Linked DNA regions of Homo sapiens: region 2 is linked to region 1. The links come from fine-mapping of genetic effects on gene expression. A gene starts in region 1. The other region holds a variant in brackets. All regions are shown on one strand. Distances are between the middles of the regions.

Region 1 (5,370 bases):
GGAGGGATAGAGAGATGGAGCTCAGGATAGCAGCAGAGGCAAATCTTCACTCCCCGTTTCCACCCTTCCCCAACTGACCCTGAGCATGGGCCTCATGTAGCCGCCTCAGCTGGTTGGGAAGGAAGTCTGGGACAGGGAAGCTGCGACCAGGGCGTGTGGCTGTTTCCCCCACACAGCGTTGCCGGCACTGCAGGACCTGAATCCAGTGTCCTGCAGAGGAAACCCATAAGCCATTCAGCTTGTTCATGCCCCTCCCTGGGCACCGACCCACCCCCTCACACACGGGACCCTTACCTGCAATGGCCTCATAGAGGCCCCCCTGGCTCGCAGCCCCATCCTCCTCTTCTTCAGCCCCCTGCTGCTCCTCAGGCCCCTCACAGTCAGCACGGCAGCTCTCCATCTGGGCCAGGCTCCCCTGAAGAGCCTCCTCTAGCCTGGGCAGTGCCAGTCCTGCCTCCTGGCGCCCCAGTAGCTCCAGGCCAGTGTCATAGGCTGCCTGTTGGGGAAGGGAGCAGTCAGTCACCTAAGATCCAGGGGTTGCCAAACTGGGAGGTAGAGAGGAGAGGGGTGTTGGTCTCATTTGGGGCAAGGACTCCATGTCCCTCTTCACCGTGGAGAAGAATAAGGGTGGGCCTCAGAATCATAATGTTAGAACATCAGATTTCAGTGATCATCCAGGAAGGAAACGAAGTCCTAGAGAAGGACTCCCAGCCAGGGTCGCTGAGGATCATTACCCCATCTGTATGCTCAAGCAGCACAACGCACAGTTTAGTGAGGCCTGTGTATCCAGCCAGGAAAAGGCTGGTGGCAAGACAGGGGTGGTGCTGGGATTCTCACCCAGTGTGGGGGCGTCTCCAGGTCCCGGAAGCTCTGGGGCCGAACTCCCGACATTCGTCTGTACTTAGCCATGTCCTCCCGCATCTGCAGGTGCATGGGGTTTGCTACAAAGAAGGTGTGTGCTGCCGCAGCTGCCAGATCCAGCTTCTTCAACTGAGGAGGCGAAGGGAGGAGGGCATCAGAGCCCTGGGACGGGGGGCAGACCTCTGCCCCCTGGCCAGCCTCCCCACCCTACCCCAGACACACACTCTGGGTGCCCCAGAGCCTCATGGAAGACTGGCCAATCAGAACCGCCCACCGCCCGAACTGCAGATCCCCTAGAGGCCAGAACGTTGGGACTCTCAGAAGGCTGGCACCGAGGGAAAGGGGATCTAAAGACGTCGGAGTTGGGTGGGACATGGGTCTCAGGACTTCAGGACCTCAATTTGGGAGACCAGGTGGAAGTGATGGCTTAAGTGAGGTGGGGAAGTGGGGGAGACCTCAGCGACCAGCAAAACCCGCAGGTCTCTAGGACCCTGAGCTGAGGTGAGTACAACCGGCGCCCCGCTTCCCCAGCCACGTAGGCAACTGCTGCGGTACCGGCGGCTGCGGCGTGCTGTCCCCTCCCCGCCCGCAGAGGTCTGGCCTCGGAGGACCCCAACCTTGCCTCCGTCTGCTCCTTCCTTTCCGAAGCTACCTCCTGCCCCAAGCGAAGGTTCACACTCACCACCACCCCCGACACACACACACACCCACGCACACTTCCCGTCCGAGAGCCGGTTTCGCCCCCACCGCCTCCGCTTCATTCCTAGGAAGAGGCGGCCCTGTCCCTCCATCTTCGATCTGCTCCCGTCCCACCTCACGACCTCCCCGCCCCATTCCCATTCTGCTCGCACTCCCCCTCGGCTGCTCCTCTGCGATCTCAAGAGGTCCTCGCGGTCGCTTAGCCAGCTCCTACGCAGAGGCCCGCGGTACGCTCCCCAGCCCCGTGCGGGGCCCGGGCAACAGCATTCCGCCTACTCCTGGGCAACGCAAAGTAGGACAGCGTCGTGGTGAGGGCTGGGACCCTCGGAGCTGCCCGGCCCGCTCCCCACCTGGTAATAGGCCCTCTGCAGGTAGTTGTAGGGCTCCCGACGGCGGAAGGCGTCCCGGAGCGCGCTCCCCACGCGAAGCCGCGCCGCGCCCCCGGGGCCCAGCCTCCGTGCTGCGCACTGGGTCAGGCAGTCTGCGCGGCGGAGCGCTGCACGGAGAAGCTGTCGCTCCCAGGACCCCTGCGTGGGTCCCGGCCCGGAGTCGGGCTCCGGGGCCCCGAGAAGCACGGCGGGGAGCGCGGCGCCCGGATCGGCCGCGCAGCTCGCCCCGCAATCCAGCCGCACCCGGCCCAGCGCCGCCTGGCTCCGCAGCGCCTCCCGCAGCAGCGCCACGGCCGGCGCCCAAGCCCCGGCCGCGTAGGCGCGCAGCCCGTCAGCGTAGAGCAAGTCGGGGGCCTGCGGGGGCGCCCCCGGGGACAGCTGGGTCAGGCCGGGGGGCTCAGGGGACCCCGGGGGAGGCAGCAGCAGCAGTAGCAGCAGCGGCCGGAGGAGCCGGAGCATGATGTCGGAGCCGCCGGCAGCCGAGGGGAAATGCGGGAGCCGAGAGGGAGGGAGAGGAAAGGGGGGAAGGGGAGGGAGGGGGAGGAAGGAGAGATGGAGAGGCGGAGGGAGAGGGAGAAATAATGAGGGAGGCCGAGAGAGAGAGAGAGAGAGAAGATGGGGCTGAGACCCGATGGTGGGAGAGGCCCATGTGAAAAGATGGAGAGAGAAGAGTGCTGAGTGGACAAAGCTGGTCTAGTGTGGAATAAGAGGGAGAAACTGGGAGGAGGAGGGCAAAAGGCGGGAACTGGAGCAGGCCTGGGCATCCATGAAGGATGACTTCAGCCCCAGCGGTGACTTCAGCCCCTGAGGTCTGGGGGTAACTACTGGGGCTGTGTTCCCTCCACACACACGCTTCTGGGTCCAGAAAAAGGAGTGTGGACGCCGATCCCCCCCTCGCCCCCCCCCACCCCCCCACACTCATCCACCCCTGCACTCCCACCCCCCCACACTCATCCACCCCTGCACTCCCACCCCCCCCACACACTCATCCACCCCTGCACTCCCCCACACACACACTCATCCACCCCTGCACTCCCACCCCCGCCCACACACACACTCATCCACCCCTGCACTCCTTTGGAGAAAGAGCTTTAAAATGCAGCAAGGAGGAGGTGTCCAGGCCCGGGACACTGCATCAGCCCCAAAACCTTTCCTGCCCATAAAGTGAGCCCCTGCATGGATTTGAGGTTAGAAGGAGAGTTGGGCACTGGGGCTGGAGCCACGCTCTAAAACCACCTCAACAAATCTGAACAGAGATCCTTCATACCCCAACCAACGAAGATGTGTGTCCTCAAGCCCCGCCCCCAGCAGGATATGCTCCTCCCAGCCTTCCCTGTGCGAGGCTGCCTGGTGGAGCATGTGATCATTTCTCCATGTGTCCTTCTGTGCCTCTGTCTGCTGCCCCTGCTCTGTCGTGTCCCCTGTGAGCCACTCCACCCTCCAAGCCCCTTTCCACCGCAGTACACTGGACACTGAGGTTTCCATGGCAACACTTCAGACTTTAATACATATTGCTAGGGGTGATGGAAGCTGAGTAGGGCATCTGGTCACTTGGATGGGAGAGAGCAGGGCCTTCTGAGCCCCAAATCTAGCGCCCGTCTCCCCAGAGTCTGGAGGCAGCTGCCCTACTCTCGGCCAGAATGAGGTGTTACTCACTCAGGCTTTCTCCTCTGAGTTCAGCAGGCCTGCTTGGGCTCACAGGGTCAGCTGGGGAAAGATGGGGTTGCCTGGGCCCCAGGATCCTCCCCAAGCCCTTGCACTTTCTTCACCCCCCGTCAGGGAGCAGCGTCTCCCTGCGCTTAGTCCCAAAGGAAGTCCAACGGCTCTGCTCTCAGGGGACCCAAGGGAGAGTCGGCGGGGTGAGAGGCCCAGTGGCCGGGGCCGACGAGGAGAGTGCCCTGGTGAGGCAGTCGGAGAAGGCAGAGGTGTCTCATCGATGAAGGTGGTGATCTCCTCCCGGAAGAAGCCAGGACCCCGTGGGGGTCCCCCACCTGACCCCAGAACCCCACTCTCCAAGAATTGGCGAAGGCTGGCCAGCCCCCCACCTTCAGCCTCTTCCTCGTCCTCCTCGTCCTCCAACCTGTGTCTTTGTCCCAGGTACTCAGGAGGACCCCCGAGGGCCCGGCTCTGGGCTGGGAGGACCCGGATGTCATCAGAGGATGACCACTTGTGCAGGAAGGAGCCTGGTTCCCGAGGGGTAGAGAAGATGTTTGTCTCATCATGGGACAGACGCCGGGATAGGGGGACCTGGGAAGAGGAGCGGGTAAGACCTGAAGGTGCTGCAGGGACAGAGGCAGAGGCAGGAACCAAGTGGGGACTCCGGAAGATGGTGCCACCTTCTTAACCTTCAAAACGTTTGCTCCGGTGGGCAAACCTGGCCCCACGAGGTCTGAAGGGATGCCTCTCTTGCTATAGCTTTCTTTCACCCAGCTCTATGGTGCCCTGAAAGCCAGGGCTAGGGAAGAGGGGATTGGGGTGCCTAACAGACACTGGAGAAAAGTGATGAGCGGCACCAAGGGTAGGAGATGTATCCCCCAGTTCCATACCTGTAAGTAGTGGACTCTCTCAAGAGGAGGGAAGAGCATGTGCCTTCCAGGCAGCAGCTTCACCTGGGCGGGGTCCCGGCTCCCTGGTCCTGTGGCTCCGTTAGCATCAAAGCGAACTTTGCAAACTCGGCCCTCTGCATAGTCGTCACAGCCCCCATCTAGGAGAGAAAATGGGCAGAGTGGTTACAGGTAGGGAATGCCTACCGCGGCCTCCCACCACTGCCTTTATAAGCTCCCAGAGACCCCTTTAGTTCCCATTAGCATGTATGTTCCAAGAGGACAGTGAGAGTGGCTAGCATTTGCTGCGTTCAGTGCTAAATCCTGAGTGGAGTGCTTCATACATATAGATGAAGTTATTGAAACAATTGCCTGCACTCCCCCAAGAGCCGTCCCTATAGCTGGGGGGCCTCTCTCGGGAAGCTCAGGTTCCCCATAGTGCCAGAGCTGGGCAGTGTGGGTTTCTGGAGGGGAGCCTAGGCCCAGTGAAGGGAGCCCTGAGTGCTGCGGGAAGCAGTGAGTGGACAGCAGGGTGCCTGCTTAGGGAAAGGGGAGCCCAGGGTGGTGCAGATTCTGTCCAGTAGGGGGCACTCCAGGGCAGCCCATCCTCTGGCTGAGAAGGAGCGGCAGAAAAGGGAATAGACAGATGTCCAGGAAAGCCAAAGCCCAGCCCCTCCTCTGACCGTCATCTCCATCCTCCTCAGACATGATGGCCACGCATTGCTCCCACACTGTGCGCACGTCGGCGCGGTAGCGCTCGCAGGACCAGATGAAGGAGGGCAGCAGCAGCGTCTGTGCCATGGAGCACCACAGCACAGCCAGCACCATCCAGGGGGGCGCCGAGTCCGACTTGAGGGAGAAGAAGCTCACCACCTGGG
Region 2 (5,370 bases), 670 kb before region 1:
TGTCAAATCTCTCTAAACTTCAGTTTCTGAGGATTCAATGATATAATACATGTAAAACTACTGGTACACTGTTTGGTATGTAACAGGTGCTGAAGATCCTCATGGCTCAGTTCTCTTGGTGACTCAGTTCTCTTTCTTCTTTCTCCGCTTCCTCTTCCTCTTCCTTCTCCTCCTTCTCCTCCTTCTTTCCTCTTATTTTTAACCACTATGGGAGGTGTGAAATGGGGAATAACAAAAGTAACATCTACTGCAAAGTTTAAAATTATCATAAATTTTAGCAGGCTCTTATCATAATTATTGCTGTGTATAGAACTGGCTGTTTAGCTAAAACAGTGTAGTACTTTTAGCTCTTTTTTTCTGTTGTTTTATAACTACCAGTGGAGTTAATCAATTTGCTTTTTGAAATTTATACACTTAAAGCTTTAACCTGAGTCAAATTTAAATAACTTGAGTCGAATTTATCTATTTCTGTACAAAAAAGAGTATTTACATCTGTCCTAGTAATAGATGGAAACAAAACAAAACAGAAAGTTTAAAAACTTTAACCTGTAAACATTTTCCTTTGTAAGTAGATATAGATAAAAATCCTAATTGCTTCCTAGATTTTAACATATTAAAATTCTCTACCGTGTGGAGCTGGGCAATGTCCAAAATCAGGCACCATTTTAAGGACAACATAAAATCCCAAGTGTCCAGAGGAAACTTCTTTTCTAAAATCACTTCTAAATGAATGTAACTTCTGAACTCTGGTCTTTTCTCTGCTCCAGATGGATCCAATTTGGAAATGAGGCTGACGCGTGGAGGGAATATGTGTTCTGGAAGAATAGAGATCAAATTCCAAGGACGGTGGGGAACAGTGTGTGATGATAACTTCAACATAGATCATGCATCTGTCATTTGTAGACAACTTGAATGTGGAAGTGCTGTCAGTTTCTCTGGTTCATCTAATTTTGGAGAAGGCTCTGGACCAATCTGGTTTGATGATCTTATATGCAACGGAAATGAGTCAGCTCTCTGGAACTGCAAACATCAAGGATGGGGAAAGCATAACTGTGATCATGCTGAGGATGCTGGAGTGATTTGCTCAAGTAAGGACTGATCTTGGCTCATTCTATTCTCCAGGAGAGGACAAAAGAAAGGGGTAATAAATCTTAAGAGCCTGAACTCTTAAGAACATAATGAAGTCTGCTTCTTTTGTCACCGCATTTTAACCTAACTTCAGGTTCCAGTTCTGATACCTGTGGACTTTTTACCTTAACTGAAATTAGGAGAAATAGGTTAGGGAAGTGCATAGTGAAACTGAGATCCAGGTCATAAGAAAAGAAGAAAGTGTTTAGGAAAAGCCCATAAAGAAAGGGAGAGACCGAAAAGAAAAAGAGGGGAAAAAGGAAAGAAGGAAGGGCTTTACTAGGATATTTTGCACTATGAAGTTTTATGACCAAACCACTCCAGTTATCATCTAATCCACAAAAGCCTCCTCATTAGCCTCATTAACCCACTCCTTCCCAAATCATTTTTCAAGTTCACAGAATCGAATCACTTGTTAAAAATCAATATTGGTTTCTCATTAAAACTTTATTTATACTAGATATGCATTGTATCTGTCTAGAGACTTTCACGTTGTATACTCAGACTGGGGGCGGGGAAAATCGTTTGTGTGTGCAGAGATACCACTCTTCGTTTTTCTGTTGAATTCTTAGTATAAAAGGAGATTGAGTGTGTCTTGAACCCCAGAGAACACTTAGGAAAATAAGAGTAAAAAATCCCTATCTTCACCAGATCCCTTTCTCTCTCTCTCTCTCTCTCTCTGTGTGTGTGTGTGTGTGTGTGTAAATAAAGGAACTTCCATTCAAACTTGTTTAAAAAGAAGAGAATACTGGCTCACAAAACTGGGAAATCCAGAGGGTATAGTTAGCCTCATGCATGGTTGGATTCAGGTTCTTGAACAATGTCATCTGGGTTCTATCTCTTTCTGCATGTCTTGAACAAGCTTTTTCTTGTTGAACAATGTG[A/C]TCAGCTATAGCCTGAACCACAATGAATGGAACTCCTACAAGAAAGATAGATTTTGTTAGGTTAAGAATGTGAAGAATTTGGAGTAGAAAAAACACAGACTGTACCTTCCATTCTCTTTTACCCATCAACATTTCTCTAGGCCCCCAGTTAGCACATGCTGACGAATCACAATCCCACAATGAATAACATTGTGGGAATGAAAACGGAAACTGCCAGAGGAAACAACCAGTTTAATTTATTACAGAATATTCTTCAGAATCAACGTCTGTTCTTTGAAGAATATTGATTTGGGGAAGGTGAAAATTGTAGTACTGAAGCCTCCTTTCTCTTTGCTCTGCTTTTAAACTAAGGAAGTGGTCACAACAGGTTCAGGTGTACAACACAGGCTAGGTAGTATCAATGGAGAATGCAGTCAGAGGCAAAAGGGATTGCTAAGTATGGAGGCAAACTGAAGGATGAGGGAGTCACCTAAACACATGCAAATATATTTTAACCAGAAAAAGTAAACAGTTCTAACAAGAACTCTGTGGTGGTCAAATAGCAGGTCTCTAGATGAAATTCAGTCCCTGTATCTCCTGTTAGAAACACTTCCTGTAGTATATGCTGTCTATACTGAGATGTCCCATCTTCTTGCCTGATCCACTCCTCCTTCCATCTTGAATGATTTCCAGTGGTAGTACAGTACATCACAGTTTTCTCTGTCTCCACTTATATCTCTCCCCTTTTCCTTAACTCATCTCAGGTATAGCTATTTATAGTCTCATGTTCTTGCTTCCTTATCGCAGACCTGTTGTGTGTCTCTGTTACAGAGGGAGCAGATCTGAGCCTGAGACTGGTAGATGGAGTCACTGAATGTTCAGGAAGATTAGAAGTGAGATTCCAAGGAGAATGGGGGACAATATGTGATGACGGCTGGGACAGTTACGATGCTGCTGTGGCATGCAAGCAACTGGGATGTCCAACTGCCGTCACAGCCATTGGTCGAGTTAACGCCAGTAAGGGATTTGGACACATCTGGCTTGACAGCGTTTCTTGCCAGGGACATGAACCTGCTATCTGGCAATGTAAACACCATGAATGGGGAAAGCATTATTGCAATCACAATGAAGATGCTGGCGTGACATGTTCTGGTAAGTTAAAACCAAACCAAAACCAAAACACTAAACAAAAAGAAAAGCAGAAACGGAAAGTCCTGTGCTCCTTAAGAGTAGGAACGTGCTCCTTAAGAAGTAGAAATGCCTAGTAAATTCCTTGCTGGGAATTCCTTTATACCTGTAATCTTTGACACATTCTTTATTCAACTAGTTTGGAAGGTTGTCTGACGGCATTCTCTGTAATAATTACTCAGACTGCTTTTATGGAGCACACTTCAAACTCAGAATCTACCTGGAGCTCAGAGAGACAAAATTTCCTAGGAATCTGTTTTTAAATTTTTTTAATTTACTTATTTTTTTACTTTAAGTTCTGGGATAGATGTGTTGAATGTGCAGGTTTGTTACATGGGTAAACATGTTCCATGGTGGTCTGCTTCACGTATCAACCTGTCATCTAGGTTTTAACCCCCCATGCATTAGGTATTTGTCCTAATGCTCTCCCTCCCCTTTCCCCCCACCCATTGACAGGCCCCAGTGTGTGATGTTCCCCTCCCTGTGTCCGTGTGTTCTCATTGTTCAACTCCCAGTTATGAGTGAGAACATGCAGTGTTTGGTTTTCTGTTCTTGTGTGTTAGTTTGCTGAGGATGATGGTTTCTAGCTTCATCTGTGTCCCTTCAAAGGACATAAACTCATTCTTTTTTATGGCTGCGTAGTATTCCATGGTGTATATGTACCACATTTTCTTTATCCAGTCTATTATTGATGGGCATTTGGGTTGGTTCCAAGTCTTTGTTATTGTAGATAGTGCTGCAATAAACATACATGTGCATGTGTCTTTATAGTAGAATGATTTATAATCCTTTGGGTATATACCCAGTAATGGGATCGCTGGGTCAAATGGTATTTCTAGTTCTAGATCCTTGAGGAATCACCACACTGTCTTCCATAATGGTTGAACTAATTTACACTCCCACCAACAGTGTAAAAGCTTTCCTATTTCTCTACATCCTTGCCAACATCTGTTGTTTCCAGACTTTTTAATGATCGCCATTCTAACTGGGATGAGATGGTATCTCATTGTGATTTTGATTTGCATTTCTCTAATGACCATTGTTGATAAGCTATTTTTCATATGTTTGTTGTCCGCATAAATGCCTTCTTTTCAGAAGTGTCTGTTCATACCCTTCACCCACTTTTTGAGGAATCTCTTTTAAAGCTGAATTGCTCATATCTTTCTGCCATTGACAATTTTTATCAACCCTTGAAACTACAGTCCCATTTCTAACAAAAATTTATGGTCTATATTATTGTTTCTTAAAAAGTCAGGAAATAAGTTACCTATAATTTTCAATGCATCAGTATCAGAGAAGAAAAAAGACAAAAAAAAATCCTCTGGAAGCTAACCTCCATATGTATCGATGGTTTAAGTTTATGTTTCTTTTGCAGATGGATCAGATCTGGAGCTAAGACTTAGAGGTGGAGGCAGCCGCTGTGCTGGGACAGTTGAGGTGGAGATTCAGAGACTGTTAGGGAAGGTGTGTGACAGAGGCTGGGGACTGAAAGAAGCTGATGTGGTTTGCAGGCAGCTGGGATGTGGATCTGCACTCAAAACATCTTATCAAGTGTACTCCAAAATCCAGGCAACAAACACATGGCTGTTTCTAAGTAGCTGTAACGGAAATGAAACTTCTCTTTGGGACTGCAAGAACTGGCAATGGGGTGGACTTACCTGTGATCACTATGAAGAAGCCAAAATTACCTGCTCAGGTATGACTTTCAATCAACTTGTTAAGAAGAAGGGTGTAAATTTCCAGTACTACCTTTGAAATTGAAAAGAAACATTGGTCCTTATGACTAGATCACTCTCAAGAAACCAGGAAATATCTACACAAATTCCACTGGGAGAGTCAGATAAGTTTACAATTCATGTTGCACTTTAGATAGAAGTGTTTGGGTTTTGCTCACTTTGGTTTTTGAGTAATTTTTAGATCAATAGAGGTATAAGATTAAGGAGGATTAAAATTTAAAAAATAGAATTCAATATTTCTTTCACAGGATGTCACCAAAAGATTTAAAAAATAACCATGTTAGATAAACTGACATAACCTTCAGCTCCCTCTATTGTACTGTGAAAGAATTTTCTTTTTTTTTGGAAAACCTGTGAATATTTCACTGCAACCTCTTTAAAAAGCTCAAAAATGAGTTGTAAACTGGTTAGGTTTGTGGATAATCTTTAGTATTTTATGCTAATTATATTTATAC

What was found. PIP is the estimated chance that this variant, and not a neighbour inherited with it, causes the effect.
Region 2: its variant is the best candidate, but not a certain one, in a credible set for the expression of P3H3 in nucleus accumbens (GTEx, PIP 0.73).

Annotation. Positions count from the first base shown.
Region 1 is chr12:6,825,479-6,830,848 of GRCh38, reverse strand. P3H3 (prolyl 3-hydroxylase 3) reads right to left here and starts at 2,442. Exons shown (of 15, transcript NM_014262.5): 1 at 1,911-2,442; 2 at 838-990; 3 at 295-496; 4 at 79-210. The coding sequence starts at 2,408. It overlaps GPR162 (G protein-coupled receptor 162), which reads right to left. Exons shown (of 5, transcript NM_019858.2): 3 at 5,176-5,365; 4 at 4,496-4,653; 5 at 3,428-4,196. The coding sequence ends at 3,645. RefSeq lists enhancers at 975-1,510, 1,760-1,819, 1,558-2,059, 3,217-3,785 and a silencer at 1,970-2,079.
Region 2 is chr12:7,494,586-7,499,955 of GRCh38, reverse strand. CD163 (CD163 molecule) reads left to right here. Exons shown (of 17, transcript NM_203416.4): 4 at 768-1,088; 5 at 2,823-3,143; 6 at 4,555-4,875. It overlaps LOC124902870 (a long non-coding RNA gene), which reads right to left. Exons shown (of 2, transcript XR_007063197.1): 2 at 4,702-4,928. Among named protein-coding and RNA genes, the nearest start is that of CD163, 6.5 kb to the left of the region's middle. RefSeq lists an enhancer at 1,907-2,408. The variant A/C (reference allele first, on the strand shown) is at 2,013.